Homo sapiens: one gene and its partner. The protein of the gene in region 2 binds, or shares a complex with, the protein of the main gene of each other region. Each region holds a gene or a part of one and is shown on either strand. Other genes may lie near its edges. The genes, in order: KAT6A and BRPF3.

What was found.
Region 1: BRPF3 (region 2) and KAT6A share a complex: the UniProt entries of both Homo sapiens proteins name them as parts of the MOZ/MORF complex.

The regions. Positions count from the first base shown.
Region 1 is NC_000008.11:41,928,523-41,938,302, forward strand, and holds the end of KAT6A (histone acetyltransferase KAT6A), read right to left. Parts: intron 9,047-9,780; coding exon 8,734-9,046; intron 6,346-8,733; coding exon 3,683-6,345; 3' UTR 957-3,682; downstream 1-956. UniProt on the Homo sapiens protein: Histone acetyltransferase that acetylates lysine residues in histone H3 and histone H4 (in vitro). Component of the MOZ/MORF complex which has a histone H3 acetyltransferase activity. May act as a transcriptional coactivator for RUNX1 and RUNX2.
Region 2 is NC_000006.12:36,189,734-36,199,743, reverse strand, and holds the start of BRPF3 (bromodomain and PHD finger-containing protein 3), read right to left. Parts: upstream 3,001-10,010; 5' UTR 2,774-3,000; exon of another isoform or gene 2,541-2,773; intron 2,360-2,540; exon of another isoform or gene 2,325-2,359; intron 1-2,324. UniProt on the Homo sapiens protein: Scaffold subunit of various histone acetyltransferase (HAT) complexes, such as the MOZ/MORF and HBO1 complexes, which have a histone H3 acetyltransferase activity.

The DNA of each region.
Region 1 (9,780 bases), on a different chromosome or scaffold from region 2:
TATTGAAAAAACATAATTGGTTTATGTTGAAATCACTTAAAGCAAATACTCTTCAGTGGCAAAGGCAAGAATGTTTTCAAGACAATCCACTAGTAATTGCATAGCACAGTGACACAGCCTGTGTCCAAATAATGGTTATATAAGCCAGCCAAGAAATCAACGGACATACATCATTCCTTTTGAGATGACATGACTATACTGTCTAAACTTTAAACAGCATGAAATTCAGAACAAATGTCTGCTATAGGTAGTATCATGTACAGTTCCTCAATTCCTCAGTGTGAAGGGGCAGAGGAAGTGTGGAGGCCGCTAAAACTTGAACCTGCCTCACTGCCTACCACCAGAAACTAAGGCCAATTTCCCAAAGTGAAATCAAATTTTCTGGACTCTGCCTCCTGTCCACAATTCTAAATGATGAGAGGCAAACACAACCCAAGAGACCACCAAAAAGTAATCAGCATTCAGGGCCTTGAATTCTGGCAAAAGGAGAATGACGAATCTTCCTAGATTACCCAATTAGGTAAAATGAAATGAAAAAAAACCCACAACGCTTTTAAAAATACTGTTACATTATAAAATAAGATCTATAAAAATTACTCCTCCCATTTATCACAAGTCTAGGAGCTACTTGTTATTGCAATTGCTTTTTTTTAGGGGAGTGGGGGGGACGGGAATTAAAATCCCTTTAGGAGGTTTTTATATGAATGCCCCTACAAAATCCAAAGTAGGGTTACCGTGCCATGTTCCTTGGAAATGGAAAACCCATCCATATTGTTGGCATTTAAACACAGACATAAATGAAAACTGGAATTTCAAAGCAAAGGCCATGGACTTGTACTCCTATAATAAAGAGGAAAATGAAAAGACTAATGTTTATAGGTCTCTGGGTGTAGAACAAGAATTGAAGAGTTCTGACATACTGGGAAGGGAGAAAAATTCCACATGCAAGACAGACATCCAAAATGGCTCAACATAATTTATTTTTTATGTTAAAATGTACAGAGTTCTTTTGAAAGTACTTGCTAGAAAGGGGAAAAAAAGGTATTACATACAAGGAGAGGAAGGGAGGCCGGCTGGCCCAGGAGCGCGTGACATGGAGAGATACAAAGGCATCTAGGCACCCCTTCCCCTTAGCTTACAAGTCACCATGAACAAAGTACAAAGAGGTTACAAAACAGGAAAAGCAAATATAAACAGACAGGATAGACGTGGCTTCCTTTGTACATGCGGCTTTTAGAGGCATCTGGAGCTCTATTCACACACGCTAGAGATCTCTTTAAAGAGAATTTATCTTTCTTAAAATAGTTTTTAATATTCTACAACAAAGATAAAAAATTTTAAAGATGGAATGAAATGAAAAAGCTCTTATTTTAAAAGGCATCAAAGTCACTAACAGTGAGTTTTTAAATTTCTTTTTTAGAAGATTACCCAAGTTATCTTGCTAAAAATACATTTTTTTTAAACAGAAGTGAAAAAATGACAGGTACCAATATTACTGTGTTGGATAATTTCTTTTATAATATAGAAAAGAACTTTTTTTTTCTACAATAGTTCTACAGTCACAAAGAGGCTTGTGGAAAAGGGAGCTGCCCGATTGAATTTTTTATAAAGAAACAAACAAAACCAAACACAACCGCAAACCAACAGAAACTGATTTCACGGCCCTCATTTCAACAGCTTCTCCTTCTGCCTTGACCCACCCTCCTCCCAATATACCTCCCTCCCGACCCACCCCGTCCCCACCCCAACCAGGAAGCAATGACACAGCTGAAGATGTAGGGCGATGGCAGCACAGTGCACTTTCTACATAGATGACTGGGAACTGGAATAGTATATACAGAGAAACTGGGTCCTACACAGCCTTGCACATGCTCAGAGCTGAGAGCGGGAAGATGTGGAATTCTGCGTTTCTACCTAGCACGCTTGAGAAAGTCAATTAAAGTGTATTAAAAAAACCAACAAACCTGTGCATTTGAAAAAAGTTAATGCCTAATTAGTACTTTAAAAATTTATCTATATAAAATGTACAAATAAAGGAGAGAATTTAATGCTTACAGATATTTCTCTAAGCAGTACTTCCCCCTTTTGGATATTTGACTGCACATACCAAGTGGTATAATAGTTTCCATCTTCTAATGATGGAATATATATATATATATATGTGTGTGTGTGTGTGTGTGTGTGTGTGTATATATATATATATATATTTTTTTTTTTTTTTTTTTTTTTTTTACCTATCCCTGGAGCAAGTAATAGGAAGAGAATGGGCAAACTGGTTGCACGAGAGAAAAGAGAATGGAGTTGGGAGCAACACATGAACTTGCGTTATAACATTCTGCTGTCCAGATCTGCCCTACTGTGCTGGTGGTCGGTCTGTCCCTCTTCTCATTAGCCACTCACAGGAGAGGTGCTTGTGCACTCTGATTCACAGGGGATGAACTCAGGATCTCAAAAGACATACAAAAACTAGAGGTATGTATCACTTAAATAGCTACGAAACTCACACCGTGATCTCCCTTCTGACACACATCTGCGCCATCTCTTCCAACATAAAATAAACTGTTTCAATGGTTTGTCAGTTATTTTTCAAATCACTAAAATGTACAGTCATCCACCAACAATTTAAGAAAGAACCTAAGAGGCAAATCACTGGGGACTGCTATTTGAGTTTTATCAGTCAAAGGCTCAAGCATCAAGACCCTCAGTTAGCATTTCAAAGTACATACTAGAAACAAGAGGCTGGGTGGCGTGTGTGTGCGTTATGGCTGATTCACCAGGTGGTAAAAAAACAAGAGGTTAATCTCCTCTTTTTGATTGTTAATTGACCATCTCTATTCCTCCAAAGGCTGGATTTGGATTGCAAACAGCTTTTCTCTGAGATTCTGCTGTTAATTGAGACTTACAGTATTTTTGTGTCTCTGAGTGCTGAGTGGGAATATTTTAAAAAAGAAGAAAAAAATTATATTACACTTGATTCAAGAACAACAAAGATTTCAATGAAGTCCGTCTATAAAGAAACATTCTTGGGGAAGGGTTTCAAGAGGTGTGTGTGTGTGAGGAGTGGAGGGGATTTTAAAAGGAGAAGCATTTTCCTGCCTCACTTTATTAATAATAATAATAATAATATTAACAATAATAATAAGTTTAAGGAGCTTGGGTTGTTCTCCATGTCCCCATCCGAGTCTCCCCTAAGTGCCTCCTGCTGGAATGAAGTAGGAAATGAAAGGTTGGGTTTGGAGGAAAGGGTCTGGTTAACCCTTGAGATGTATATAACATTTAAAAATGACAACATTGGGAGCTGCAAACAGTGAGGGGAAACATACATTTTAAAATAAAGATAATTCACTTTTACACAAATTCTGTCCATGTGGTATGTAAAGAAAGTAAGGCTCTTTTTAATTATGAAAAGATTTTGTGCATGTTTCCCCATCCCCAAATCCATTTTTAGATGAGTTCTACTGTAAAATGTTCAAGATTGTGAAGAAAACCAAAACCCAGAACAAAATGAACCCAAAAAAAGAGAAGATCAGGTTTTCTAAAAAATAAAATAAACCAAAGAAAAATTCCTCTAAATCTACAGCAATATTTTAACTGGAAAAAGGTCCATTTTTCTCTGGTTTGTCAGTATAAAAGGTTCCTTTATTTATATATATTTAAGTTTTTGATTGCAAGTTCATCTTGCTCATCTTCTCATGTAAGGTCCGTTGAGTGACTGCTTGGGCACGCCAGCAGCGTTCATGTAGCTGTGATGGGAGGGGCCTGTGTACATCATGTTCCCATGAGGGTTAGGCTGCATAGGCTGCTGGGTATAGGCCTGGCTCCCCATCATTCCCATCTGCATCTGCATAGGATACTGTGCTGTCTGGTTCATGTAGGCAGGGTTACTATGGTAACTGCTGTTCATCATGGGCTGTGTCATTCGATAGCTGTTCATGGCATTCAAGGTGTTCATATTCATGGAATTGACATTATAGGCGGGAGTAGGCATCAGATTAACCCCCATGTTCATGCCACGCTGAACAGCCAGTGCGCGAGGGCCAGCCTGCATGGCAACTGCCGATGGGCTACGGCCATACAGCTGCTGCTGGTGAGCAGCCGCAGAGGGCAGTGGCGCAGACTTGGAGCGGATGGAAATGTGCCCCTTCACTGGCATTTGCCCTTGCAATCTCTGCGTGTGAGGAATGCCAATGTTGGTGGCAGACATGTTGCACTGAAGCAGAGGAGATGTGAGGTTCATGGTAGTGGATGCCAAGTTTGGGGGTGGCGTCATGGTGGCTTGTGCTTGAGGAGTCCCAGCTAAGGGATGAGATGGAGCCAGCTGAGCCAGTCCTGTATTGGACAGAGAAACACTGGTTGCATAGGAAGTCACAGCAGGAGAATGGCTATAAGGCATGGCATGAGGGTCCATAATGGTGTTGGTCAGCTGCTGCAGCTTGGCTAGGCTGAAGGTGGCTGATGGTTGAGAGTAGCTGCCGGCACCAAAATCCCCTGGAATCCTCTCATAGATACTTATGTTCCCAGTGCTTCCAGATTCTGGTATCTCCATGATCATAGGAGCTGGGGTGAAACTGTTATTCATACTACACTGTGACAGCGGGGGCTGCTGCTGGGGAGGGGGTGGGGGTGGAGGCTGCTGGGGCTGAGGCTGCGGCTGCTGTTGCGGCTGCTGCTGGGGTGGTGGAGGCTGTGGTGCTGGTTGTGGTTGTGGCGGCGGCGGCTGTGGCTGCTGTGGAGGCGGTGGTGGCGGCTGCTGCTGCTGGTTACTGGGAGGCCTCTCCACCACGCAGCTCTGAGGTGACTTGATGCTGCAGTTGGCAGCAGGCTGGACGCTGCTCTGCTGCATCATGCTGCAGCTGCTGCCCATGCTGGCCATCTGCTGAGTGACCACACAGCTGCTCTGGGTGAGGCTGCTGGAGGACGACAGCCCACCGTAGGAGCAGCTGCTCTGGGAAGAGCTGTTCCCACAGATGCTGCCGCCCATCGTGGAGTCGTAACTGCTTGGGTTCTCATAGTTTTCAGTGGTGCTCTCAATGCTGCCCAGGTCACTGAAGCCGCTGTCCACCACCTGCTGAGAGTGGTCTGATACGGAAGGCACATCCATCATGGGGCTGGTCTCCATGTTCTGCATAGAGGGTGCGGACAGGGATCCTTGTTCTGGGCTGATCTGGGTGTAGCCACTCTCAAGGGCAGGCACGTTGGGACTGCTGACCGAACGGACTGACTGGCTGGGGTGAGACTGAACGGAGGAGATAGGGCTATTATGTTCTGACGCATGACAGTCTTCAACCATGGACATCTGAGGGTCCTCGTCAGCCTGGGTGTAACTCTGCAGGGTCTGACACGCCGCAAGAGTTTCCTCACAGTCCTGGTAGGCGCCCTCATGCTCACTGCTTTCTTCTTGAGTCAAAGACTGCACTGCCTGTACAGTTTCCAGATCCAGCTCACTATGAGGAATCTCTTCCTCCTCTTTTAATTCGATTAACTCTTCCTTAGTGTGGGAGTCTTCTTCGTGGTCGTCCTCAGACCCAGCCATCTGCTCTGACACCACGGACGTGTCATGGGAAGGCTGCTCCTCTTCGGAATCCAGCTCGGTTTCCTCTTTATCCTTTATCTTTTCCCTACTCTTCTGCATATTAGCATCTAAAAAAGACTCTTGAACACCAGGCTCCTCCTTGACATCTTCCCTCGTGGGCTGTTCCTCTAGCTCCTTTTTCTTTGTGGACTCCAGGTGGCCATCATCCTCATCATCAGCGTCGTGGTCGTCATTCTGGGCAGTCTCTGCAGCTGCATCTTCCTCCTCCTCTGGCTCTGGCTCCTCTAATTCCTGCTGCTCCTCCTCTGACTGCCTCTGCTCCTCTGAGACACGGGGCTTCTCTTCTTCCTCCTCCACCTCAGGCTCCTTGGTTTCGGTCTCAGGACTATTGCTGCTGTCTGCTGGAGAGGCTGCTGGGACTTCACTGCTGGCTGCATCCTCTTCCTCACCCTCTTCAGCCTCTTCTGCCTCTGCTTGCATCTCCTCCTCCTCCTTCCTCTCCTCGGGTAGGGGCATGTCTTCTTTTGGCTCAACAGTTTCTTCACTCTCCTGGATCTTGGGTTTACGTCCAGCTTTAGGAATGGAAACGATGGGCTCAATGACGCATGCTTGAGTAGAAACTGGCATGATTTCCCGACTCAACTTAAATCCTGGTTTTCGACCAGGTCTTTTCTTCCAGTGGATTGGTTTGCGGCTCTTGCCTTTGGGCCATCCCTTTTTCTTTTTCAAAGGTGTGGATGTATCTGGCTCAAGAGGAGAATTCTTCACATCACGTTTTCGCAAAAGAGATACTGGCTTTAAGATAGGAGTGTCTATACAGGAAGGAAAAAAAACAAAGACAGGTTACAAGGTCTTACATTTTCTAGTTCCTTCTTCCAAGACTAGCATATACAATAGAAATGACTTTATTAATCATTACTTTTATAAACTCCTGATTGTCTTCATTTTAAAGTTAAGAACCTAGAGGATAAAACTAATTAGTGACATATTCTAAGTCACACAGTGAATTGGCAGAACTATGAAAGAATCCTGGTCAACATTATGTTATCAGACACTAGTCAGAACCAATTCAAGACTACCATCATCAGCTGCATGTCTGTGGGAAGTTACTCTACATTTCAGTTTCATCATCTGTAAAATGGAGATGAACTTTATAAAGAGGCAAATAAGTAGTAAGCAGTACTTTTATCAAGTTGTCTCTACTAAAAGTTACAAATTAGCTTATTTCCTCTTTTTTTTTCTGCTTGTGATTTACTTTATCTCTCGGATTTTCTTACTTTCCACAAATCATCACTTCAGGTAGTATGATGAGCCAATTACTCTAGGCCATGACTGAGCCATCGTATGTGAACAGTTGTTCAATTAATGTTGTGTTTGTATGGGAATAGCTGCAAAGCATTTATTTAGTCCTAGACAAAAACTGACATTTAGACTTAGACAAACAAGAAAAAATTAAAGCACCAATTACATTCATTAGAAATAAATTTTATATTATTAGCATTTTAAAAAAACTATGGTAAACTATACGTAACATAAAACTTAAAATTTTAACCATTTATAAGTGTTAAGTTCAGTGGCATTAAGTACACTCACATTGCCTATTAATTTTTAAAGAATAAGAATACCAAGACAAGAACATGATGCAGTGGGGGCACGGCTAAAAAGGCACAGTTAGTAGTAGTAACTTGAAAGTCAACAAAGGAAATGGCTGCATCAGCAAAAATCTAAGTCCATGGGAACTTAATCAGGGGTACTATTTTAGTGTACAATGATCTAAGACAGAATATAAAGTGCTAAATTTACAAAATAAATTTTTAGTTTCCTAGTTATGTTATTTCAAAACATAGCAAGTTAAACTCTGTAGAATCATTCATGATAGAGCAAAGAACACATTCATCTTATCACTATATTAAAAGTATTTGTTGGCCAGGCAGGGTGGCTCACACCTGTAATCCCAGCACTTTGGGAGTCCAAGGCGGGTGGATCACTTGAGGTCAGGAGTTTGAGACCAGCCTGGCCAACATGGTGAAACCCCGTCTCTACTAAAAATACAAAAATTAGCCAGGCATGGTGGCGTGCACCTATAATCCCAACTACTTGGGATGCTGAGGCACGAGAATCGCTTGAACCCGGAGGTGGAGGTTGCAGTGAGCTGAGACTGTGCCACTGCACTCCCACCTGGGTGACAGAGGGAGACTCCATCTCAAAAAAATAAAAAATAAAAAATAAAAAAGTATTTGTTATATAGAAAATATGAGAATGGAGAAAATGTAAGTTTATCTTCTAGACTTGAAACTGACTGAATTTTTAAAAGAATTAAAAAGTTCAACCAGTTAATGCATAAAAGCTAAAGGTTTATGTACCAAGACTGGACAAGTAGATTTCTTCAAATTTGCCCAACAAAGTAAAAATGCTCATTCTGAGCCCATGCGAGATAAACACACTGCAGATGCAGGCAGCATGAGACACTGGCAAAACTTTAGGCTAGGGTGAAAAAGACTTGTTTCTGACCTGGCTCATATATATGAGACCTAGTTTCAGTGTCTCTAGAGAAGAAATGACAACTAGGCTGCTTTAAAAGTAAATAGTTGGATTTGTATCTATACTATAAAATTTATTTTGAGTTATTGTTACCATTTGTGAGAAATTTACTACTAGTTGGGTAAGACACATTAGAGATACAATTCAGGAAAGACTCCTGAACAGATGTGACACAAGTTCCAATTTACATGAATCTGCTCTTTCTGGAGAATTGTCTTCTTAGCATTCACTCATTTAACACTACTTACTGAGCGCCGGGCTTAAGCACTCAGCATACAGCAATGAGCAAAACAGACTAAGTCTAGAGAATGCACATTCTAGTGAAGGGTTATTACATCTTCCTGATGCTAAGTCCAACTCTCCCATTAACTAAAGATTCTGATAAAGGCTTAGAAAGGATTGGGCAAAAAAGAACAGTTGCCTAATAGTAAGATATTTTCTGCAGAGGCAAATTAATAGAGGTTCTGAGTTGAAGGGAAAACACATTTAAAAATCAAGATGGATATACTTGATACAACTTTTTAGAGATTGCCAAACGTTCCTTTTCTTGCTTAGTGGGTTGTGTTCATTTTTCAGCCTTTTTACTGAAGGGTCTGTCACTGCTACTGCTATATATCTGAAGACAATAAACCACAGTAAGTGAGTTCTGTAAAACATACCATCAGCATCATCTGACTCTTCATCTTCTTCTTCATCTTTAGACTTCCTCTTAGAAGAGGACTGACACCTGAGTACATCCTGCGAAGACAAACGACGGAAGTATTCTCTAGGGAAAAGTTCATTTTCATCCTCTTCCTCCTCTTCTTCATCGATCTCAAACGTGGGTTCTAATCTTGGCATTGGCCTCTCGGAGTCAGAATCTTCAAAAGGTTCATCTAACACTTCAGTGGTCTCAGAAATAGTTTCTGTGACTACACTGCTATTGTGGTGTTTGCGCTTTCGGACTCTCCTCCTTCGGTGGAGAAATGGTTTCTGTTTAATAGAGAAAGCAAGTATTTACAGTTATGAACACTATCTTTTCTATTAATAATACGAAAACAGTTTTAAAACCAAATAGAATTAGCACATATAAAATGAGGATGTTGTTTGCCAAAAAATATTTTGAATATTATTTCAAAATACTATAGTAAGATAATACACTTATTATAAATACAAAGGTATTAGGCAATTGAACACAACTTTGTAAAAGAATAGGCAGCCATCTCCAAATAGCAGACATTATAATTCTCTTAATAGTTCAGTTAAATTTAGCACCCTAGAGAGTTGCCCTGTTTTAATACTGAACTGACCCAGAGGCTAATCCCTTAACTTTTCCAACTTAAGAGCAAAAGAGAAATAAAAACACTTTGTCTTATAGCACTACTGTGAAGGTTTGCAGAACTATCAGTAAAGTTGTATGCCATTTTCATGAACTACTCATAAAAAGCTGTGGAATGTAGAAATATGGGGCTGAAATGTATTTACTCAGTGTTAGTGAAATATTTCAAAAGTAAAATAAATCTGTTACTGAAATTTGGGCACACTGAGCACAACTTTGCACTGGACTGACCAAATAGCTAAAATTATACAACTAATATCACAAAATAAGAGATGATGCCCCAGAGATTATCTAATCCAATCCCTTCATTCTATAGATGTCAGAGAGGGTATAGGACTTGCTTAAGTTCACACATCCAGTCAAAGCATTTATTCATTAACTTCAAAAT
Region 2 (10,010 bases):
TGTAACATGGGGAAAGATCTAATGTTCTAATGATGTACATAAAGCTGGGCGACAGCTAACTATGGAAAACACATGTAGTTAACGGTTTAGAAAAGAAAACAAGAAAAGCATCCACTGTCAAGCTCTGTACGTGAACAATGGGCCCCATCAGAGGATCAAAAGTCACTAGAGTCTTCTCCCAATACCTCTTACCACGATCAGAAACCCTACTCCTTGACCCTGCCTAGAGGTGAAGGGGTGAAGGCATCTGAAATATCTATGATACATGGTCTAAGGGCTTCAAACTACAGTATGCAGGGTATTCCCTACAAAAGACACCATCCAGGACAGCAGTCCCCAGCCTTTTTGGCACCAGGGACTGGTTTCGTGGAAGACAATTTTTCCACAGATGAGGGTGGGTGGTGAACACTGTTCCACCTCAGATCATCAGGCATTAGTCAGATTCTCATAAGGAGCATGCAACCTAGATCCCTCACATGCGCAGTTCACAGTAGGGTTCGCGCTCCTATGAGAATCCAAAGCAGCCGCTGATCTGACAGGAGGCAGAGCTCAGGTGGTAATGCTCGCTTGCCCGCCACTCACCTCTTGCTGTATGGCCTGGTTCTTAACAGGCCACAGTCTGCGGCCTGGGGGTTGGGAACCCCTGATCCAGGATACACCAACTAGTACATTTCCAGGCAGAAACAAACCCTAGAAGCTCTGAGAGTGGCTCCAAGAGATCTCTGAAGTTATAGTGGCCTGTCTAGGACCTTCATTCGACCGAAGGCCAAGATGATCTGGGCAGTATCTGAGGTAAACTCTCAATGCATTCTGTTACCTCAAAAGTCTCTCCCAGAACACTCATATCTAGTCTATCCTTGTACAGCCAAGAGAAAGTCCTAGTTTCCCCCATCATTCTCTGGATGACAAGCTCATAAGGAGCTGCGGTAGGCAGTTACCAAGGCTGTCACCACCAGGAGAGACCTTTGGGGATACAGGGCCCCATGGTGTGGGCAGACTTGGAAGGATATGAACAAAGAGAAGATTTCAAAGAGAAAAACAATTCATCGCCTTGGTTGCAGGGTCTACCATCTATATAAAGTAGAGACGGTGATAATAAAAGCACTTTTTCCAAACTACAAAGCCCTCTTACTTTTAATATTTCTCACAACTACCTTAGGAGATGGTGTAGCTATTATCATCTACACAGAAGCTCAGAAAGATGTCACTCAACGTAAAGCTAGTAAGTGATAACGCTACAATTTGAACCCAGGTCTTCCGATGCTCAATTCCTCTCAGTGGGAATTAAGAACACCACAGAGGTGCTATGGTCTGGTACAAAACGAGGCTCTGGGGCAATCTAGGTTCTAATCTTGGCCCTCTGTGACCTAGAGAAAGTCCCTTAAGCTCTCTATGCCTCCATACTCCATCAGTAAAATGAGGGTAACACAATCTAGCTCTCTAGGTGCTACTTGTTAATAAGGTATTATTAACATCTTTACTTGAAAGGCCTTCCAATCCCAAAGTGTGACTGAAACAAACAAAAAACCAATTTGGCTGAGGAGCAGTGCCAGGCGGGCTGGCACACACCCCATTTGGAGCCAAAGGAAACAGAATCATCGCAGCAATTCTGTCCGGGTTCCAGAGGCCCTTGGCTACTGGATTCCTTACAAATGCCAAGTCCCTGGGGGCAGACAGGGCCAACAGACCTGCTTCATCACCCACCCCTCCAAAGGCACCGAGGCCCTAGAAGAGGTGAGAACATCTGCCTCCACACCGACCCCAAACAGCGCAGACAGGCGGTGCGGCGCCCACTTTCATGAAAGCCGCTCCATCTTCTCCTTCCCCACCTGCCACCTCCTCGGCTGCTCAAGCATCTCTCGACCATGCAAGACTCTACACAGACGTGTTTTGTCCCACCCACGCCTCCAGACACCGGGGAGAAACTCTAGAGGGGGAAGGGACTGCTGATGAGGGAAATGAAAAGAGTTTCGCCCACAAGGAGCTTACAGTCTAGACGAGTTTTTTGGCGGGAGTTTCTCAACCTACACAGCCCTTCCCACATACACACCTCCAAAATATCTCCAACAACCCCCGCCCCCCCAGATTTCCCCTCGGCACCCCCTGACCCCTCGCTCACCCACCCCATCCAGGTCCCCGAAGAATGAGGAGCTTCTGCAATTAGACTGTATCCCCTGCACCTCACACAAGATACTCAGGAGACAAGGAGGACCCCAGCCAAGGCTCCTGCTCCTTTAAGGGGGCACCTCTTCCAGAAGAATCTTGACCCCTCGGAGAAGAAAGGAGGGAAATAACATCTCCTCAGAGGGGAGGGGCGAGCGCACCAGAGACAGCCTGACGTGGAGTCCGACCCTCAGACAGAGAAAGCGAGCGCCAGCGAATGAGCGGGGCGGAGAGGCGAGAACCCATTGGCTGCGTCACCTGCCCGTCAGAGGGACCCAGGGGACCTAGGGCCGCTCAAGGGGCGGGACTCTCGTCTGGCCAGGCCAATTGGAAGGCGTGGCGGGGGCGGGGCTTAGCGGCTCGGAATCCAGGGCTGGGGGGGGAGACAAGATGGCGGCTGCGGGAGGGGGTCCTCGCTTCTCAGCTCCCCCGCTCACCCGCCTTCTCCTTCCCTGCCGCCGCCCTCGCTCCAGGAGAGAGCTTTCGCACCGCCCCCGCCCTGCTCGGAAAGCCCCCCGCTTCTCCGGTTTCCCCCCGTGCAGTCCCTGGTCCCCGAAGGCCCCGATGCCCCCGCCCCCGCTCTGTCCGGCCCCGCTGCCGCCCCCATTACCTCAGCCGCCTGCCCGGCCCCACCGTTCGGGGCCCCTGGGCGCGGGCGGGCAGGCCGCCGAGCAGGTCGGCGCGGCCCGGGAAGCGGAGCGCGGTCTTCTCCCGCGCCTGCCTCCGTGGCCTCCGCCGTGCCCCCTCCCGGCCCGCGCTGGGGCCCCGGCCCGGCCGCCGCCGCCGCTCCCGGGGGAGGAGGGGGAATGGAGCCGCCGCTGCTGCCGCTGCCGCCACGGAGCCCGGCCGAGGGGAGGGAGGGATCAGCCCCCAGGCAGGATCCGCCCCTCCGGCCTCCCCCCGCCACCTCCACCCCTTCCCTCGCTCCCTCCCTGACTCTGCGGGCTCTCCCGCTGAACAGGAGCGAGAGCGCGAAAGAGGGGGAAACGGGAAAAAAATCCCCCCGCCCGTGCCTGGCGCGGCGGCGGCCGGGGCGGTGCGGAGAGGAGCGCGGAGGCGCCGCCGCCGCCGCCACGGGGCACCATCCCCGGCTCGGCCTCACGGTGGCGGTGCGGGCGCGGCGGGGACACCGAGCAAGAGACCGGGTCTGCGCCCGCCGCGATCCCTGCGCACCACGGCCCTGCCCGCCACGGGGCGAGCCCGATAAGAGGGCTGTGGACGTTCGGGTCTAGTTGGGAGAGACAGGGGTCCCTGACTCTTGAGCGGTCAGTCATTTCCTCCCCAGTCCTTGTGGGTGACGTGGCTACGGTTTGGAGCAGCAAGCCCCCTCCCCGAACTAAAGGGCCTCTCCAAAGGTTAAGCCAGGGCAGTCATTGAGGTCAAAACCAATATGTAGTTTCTTGACTGCAGGTGCCTGCACGACTCCCAGAAAGTCGCGTCTCCCCTAACCCCCATGCCCAGGACCTGAGGACAAAGGTCTAGCGATTGTCCATCCCCTCCCCCAGTGAGGACAGCCGGGAAAGACCTGCCTTTGTTGTGTACAGGTGAGCGTCTTGTTCCGCACCACACATCTTTTAAAAAAAAAAAAAAAAAATCTGACTTTCCGTTTAAAAGGAGTAAACAAAAGTTTGACAGTCTGCTTAAGCATGCCTGGTAACTCGTCTGTCACTGTGGGCATGGGAAACACTTTAAACCTGACTTGGTTAATTTAATGCATTAGGCGGCTTTCTAAAAGATGCTTGACAAATGGCAGCATCAGACCAAACTGGCTTTTGTTTTGATCTAAAAAAACAAAAAAATAAAGAAAAGGGCTCCATTGCCACCCCCTTTTGCCTGTAAACTGGAAAGCTTACCTCATGTGACTGAAGTCTTAAGCACCAATACATAATGATGTTTATAAAGGACGTATGGATAAGCTGCCTGTAAATGTGAAGGTGAGTGACAGTTTGAAAGTGTTTCCTCTGCTGGCACTTGTGGTGTAGCTGGTGAGACTCAATTTCTTTCTTGGTTCTGATGATCAAGGACATGTATTCTAGAGTCAGAAGGATGAAGGATAAAGTCTTAGGATCCAAATTTTCTGAATGTTTAAAGTGAACATACTGCTACTTTGGAAGTATAGATGTTATACTAAGGAATTTAAATATAGAGAGTTTCAAATTCAAAAGTTTGATTAAGGAAGCTAATTTGTTTCCAAGTAAATAGCATCTTCTGGCAAAGAGATAGTACAAAAATGCTTCTGTTAACCAATTTTTTAAATGCAAGGGGGGTGGCTCGTGGAGCTAAGCAAGGGCAGGACAATGTTTTGAAAGCTGTGAAGATGAAATAGTATGAATTAATGTCAAGTGTTCTGAAGCTAGGGGGAATAATCATTTGGAGGGAAGGTGTGGAAGAAAAAGATGATTAATTGTGGAAGAGAAAGCCCCAGAGGCAAGAAAATATTGCAATTACAGTACTTGTAGTTAAGAAAAAAAAAGTCTGAAAACTAACAGAAACTATTAAAACATGAAATATAATAATCATTTATACATATGACTAGTAACTTTTATTTCTTGATGGATGTTCTCAAAATTTATTTAGCACAATTCCCATTTGCGTGATCAGGAGCTATCTTTTTCCACTAAAATGAATGAATAAATACCTTGAGAAAATGCATTGGTTTCTACTTGTAAGTCAACGATTTAAATGCTGTTGAAAAGGCCTTAAGTCAACCTAATGCATGTGATTTTTTTCAGGTTTTTCTATTCAAAGCTTTCATATTAAGACCTTATTCAACCTAAGTGTTTCTCTTCCATTTTCAACTTCTACTTTTTTAATGATATCATTACAGTTGCCCTCACTTTAATTTTTGACATTTGGAATTGGTTTCTACAAGCATAACTGCACACGTAACCAGTTCCCTGTGATGGAATCTTAAATGTAACATGGAACAATTATGTTATTAAAAACAAATTTGGAACATATATCAAAAATCTCAGAGGCACTAAATTTAATTCACTTTAATCGTTTGCTATTTTAAACGGTTTAAATTCACCACCCCTGGCCTTTCCAATAAACCATACAGCAATTAAATTCAACAAACAGAGGCATGGATCTTTGATTCCAAATAGTTGTTTTTAAGAACCTTCCAGCTGTAAGTAGAAACCAACTTATTTGGGATAGGAGAAGGTTTTACCATTTAAAACTAAAAGAAACATGAATACAAAAAAAAATCACCATTTCCCCACCTCTTTCTTTCATACTTCCCCATCATACTTTTTTTCAGCATCTCAGGATATCTTTGTTAATGCTTCACTATTGTCATTAGTTTATCAGGCCAAGAAACCTCTCAGGGGTCAGACGCAGTACCCACTGGATTAATAACGTGGATGATAAGGAAAAAAATAGGCCTTGATTGATTGTTAAATTATTTTTAATAGAATATTCCTTCCTTAGATACTTGACTAAAAGAATTCTGAAACCACAGTTGGGAGGAATGTTTGAGGTTGGAATCATTGTGATACTTTTTTTTTTTTTTTTTTTTTTTTTGAGACGGAGTCTTGCTCTGTCGCCCAGGCTGGAGTGCAGTGGCGGGATCTCGGCTCACTGCAAGCTCCGCCTCCCGGGTTCAAGCCATTCTCCTGCCTCAGCCTCCCAAGTAGCTGGGACTACAGGCGCCCGCCACTACGCCCAGCTAATTTTTTGTATTTTTAGTAGAGACGGGGTTTCACCGTTTTAGCCGGGATGGTCTCGATCTCCTGACCTCGTGATCCGCCCGCCTCGGCCTCCCAAAGTGCTGGGATTACAGGCGTGAGCCACCGCGCCCGGCCGATACTTTTACACTAATTAAAATGGTTTAAGAATGTAAAGTTTGCTTGGAAAATGGGAAAAGTTTAGCTAGGTTAACAACAGGTCTTAAATAGAGTAACATACCACACTCTCTAGATTTAATTCCATTTATGTATTTCTAAAACGTATTCATTGACCACTTAGAGTGTGTCTAATACTGCACAAGTTCTTTGGAAAATAATGACAAAATCTCAACCTAGAAAGGGACTAATGATCATAAGTATAGATAGAATATATTTTTTCTTGCCTTGAGTAGTGTGCAATCCAGAATGGTAGAAATAAGTAGAAAACACATACAAGAAAAAATAGATAAGGCAGTGAAGAGTATGGAGCCACCATTATTCAAAGAAGGCTTCTTGGAGAATGGGAGACTTCTTTAAGCCAAGTTCTAAATCATGATGGATGTGAACTGGTGAAAAGAGTGTAAAGTGACATTGGGTTGGTGACAGGACAGTCCAGGCAAAGGGAAAATATGCAGGGAATAATGCGGAAATTATCCTAGCTGGTATGTATGGGCAGATGATAAGAAAAAGATTGAATTGGGTAGGAGGTATGGCAAGGGGACAGGGATAATAAAAATAATACCTAACACTTATGTACAAGGTACTGTGCTTAGTGCTTTATATACTCCATTTATTAAAGATCTTTGTTGCAGTTAGCAGAAAACCAACTTAAGTGAGTTTAATAAAGGAAATAAACTCTCATAACCAGAAAGTCCAGGGGTGCATCTAGCTATAGACAAGATCGAGTCAAAGGACTCGAATTATGTCATCAGCATACTGTATCTTGCAATTTCTCAGCCATCCTGAGCCAATAACTGTGGCCAGAGGGACATGCTGCTTGTCATGTATCAACTCCTAAAACCAGAGGACATGAGCAGGAGAAGATTGTACAATGGGGTAGTAGGTACATGTACAAACTAGGTCCAATATGCACACCATATCTTATTTATCAACTTACTAACTCTATAAAATGTTACTGTTATCCTCTTTATGTATTGGAGAAAGTAGAACAGGAGATCCGGTAAACCTGGAAGAGTTTACTATAGGTAATTAGGCATTATGAAAATAAAAAGGCATTAAGCAGAATGATGGAAAATGTGTTAGAGAAAGAGGAAAAGGAAAGGTCAAATCAGAAATCAGATGACAAAGCAACTGTTTTGTCTGATTGGACATAAGAACAAAGGAGAAGATTGAAGAAGAATCTAAGTTCAAACTTTGTAGGTTCTCACAGTTTGGTACAATCATTGCAAATTAAGAGGTGGCAAAGGGTTGCTCGGGAGCTCCTATTGGAGGTGGGAACCTGAGGATTGAAGAAATGATGAAATCAGCTCAAGTTCTCTGGAACCTCTTTTGGTCACACTGAAATACATATTTATTCAATTACTATTTGTGAGCTGCTGGTAAGGTTCTATTTTATGGCTGTAAAGGCCACAAAGGTGAAAAGAGTATGCTTGCAGACTTGAAGGCATTTAGATTCTAATCACAGTATAAAGCAAGGGTATTTATAACTGGAACGTGCTACAATATAAGCACTTCAAGAGAGATGCAAACGAAGTGCCAAAGTTTGGAGGAGGGAGTGAGCTCGTCTGTTTAGGAGAAGAGGGAAGGCTCTGTGAAGAAAGTGCTATCTGAGCTCTACCTGAAAGCTCTCAGGTAGGTGTGTCAGCTAGAAAGATGGTAGAGGGAGTGTGGTCCAGGCTGAGCCACCCGCATGAGCAAAGAGGAAGAACGTATCAAAGAATAAAATTTCAACAAATGAGTCCCAAAGATCCAATTGGCTTTATTAGCTGTTTATGAACTGGGCAACATCCAGTCTACAAAATAGAAAGGAGTTCCTATGAGCTAAACAAGTAGGTGAGTTTTATAGGCAGAAAGAAGTGAAATAAATCAGGAACAATGAGCAAATAGCAGATTGGTCTTTTCAAGATTATTTTTCTTTATAGGAATGTAAATGAAATCTTGTTGGTTTAATGGGATTTGACTATCATCTCTCTCCTGATTTCTTGAAGAGTCAGATCTTACAGTAAAATACAGGTTTTGGTTTGGTGTCATGGAACCTCTCAGCATGAATGACTCCATTTGGGGTCTGCTGTCTTTTCTTTAACACATGGAATGCCATAAGATTGTTTCAGGAAACAGTGGGTTACCCATTGACCCAAAAATGAGGGATATGAGAGAGAAGGCTGGTAAGGTAAAGTCAGAGCATGGAGACTGTTGGTTGGGTAGGGAGCTAGACATGAAGGGGCAGGAGACCCTGATGATTTTTGGAACAGGGAAATGACTTCAATAGTTCCATGCTTTAAGTTCTAGTCAGGCAAGAGAGTGTGATACGGTATGGTTTAAATTAGCTATCCAGTGTGGCTTGCATTATCTTCTGAACTTGAATTCTAGCTAGAACATTTTACCATATACTCAGTGGAATGCTAAACCAAGCAAGCATGAAAGCAAGTAGTATGTGACAAGTATAAATTGTTCAACTTGATCTAATGTCTTATCTTTTCAACCTTTAATTAGGATTTCTATTAAATCCTAAACTCTTAACTGTGAGTGAAGCCAGGACACTATAAAATATAATTCCATATTTTAGCAGAAGTACCAACCCTAAAAGTAGCCATCTTCTTGGCATAATTTTACTAAAGGGAGAGAAAATACACAAAAATAATAGCACATACTAAACTAGAACCTGCATTTTGACAAGATTTCCATAAGTAATTTATATGCATATTAAAGTTGAGAAACAGTGAATTAGAGGATTTTAGAGAATTCCAGGATTAAAATACTCTGAGAAAAAGGTAAAGTTAAAGGATTAATATTAGCTTTTGATTACTCCAGAATACCTATAATAATAAAATACATGTTTCCATTTATATGAAATTCTGGAAAATGCAAACTGCTCTATAATGATAGCAGATTGGTGGCTTCCTGGATGTGAAGGGGAGGAGGGACTATAAAGGGCATGAGGAAACTTTTTGGAGTGATAGAAACATTCTGTAAGTTGATGGCAGTGGTGGAGAAACAGGTATATATACATTTGCCAAAACTTAAACTGTACAGAGTAGCTGTCTTTTATTTTACATAAATTTTACCACAATTAAGTTGATAAAGCATACCTGTTGCAATTTTTAGACTAATCATTAACATTAAAAGAATGAAAAAATGAGGATGTAACTCACAAACTAGTACAGAGTAAAAAAAGAATAAAAAATTCGACCAACCTAAAAGAAGTCAAGGAAAGAAAAGGAAATATAGTAAAGGTGAAACAAATAGAAAACAATGAAATGATGGCAAATTTAAATTCAATTTACAATTTACATTGTACATTGTAGAAAGAGTAGTCCACAATGAGTGGGACATTTCTGGAAAAGTTTAATGATTGCATGGTTAAAATAATGTCTGGCTTGACAACATGCATTGGTCCCCACTCCCTCCCCTAACTTCAATAATGTTAGTAAAGGATAAAAAAATCCACAAGACAATGAAATCCACAAGAACAAAGAGAATGAGGGAAAACAACAGCAGGTGAGATTTACTATCTCAAGAAATTGAACTAAAGAAGTTCTAGACTTGGGGCCACCAGGAACCAATGAAGACAGCGATGAAGTGTCATACTGAAAACGGAAATTAAAGGGAATCTCTGCATACTAAATAATAAGATGCTCCCCCGAGCCCCAATCATCACCATCACATGTTCTTCCCTAGACTGATGAGGGAGGGGAAATCTGGTACAAATTGCTGGAATCTGGTGGTGCAGAAGGGGGCTAAGAGAAAATTTCATGAAAACATTTCTAGTCAGTCCATCCTTTTAGTTGAAATAAATGTTTCATAGATCAAAATTCTTAGTGGTCCTGCCTCTTCCCCCAATCACATTGCAAAACACTGGAAGCCAGGTTTATTTTAGAATTTTGCTAGTGTTTGTTTTTGTTTTTTGAGATGAGGTCTTGCTCTGTTGCACAGGCTGGAATGCAGTGGTGTGATCACAGCTCACTGCAGCCTCAACCTCCCAAGCTCAAGCGATCCTCC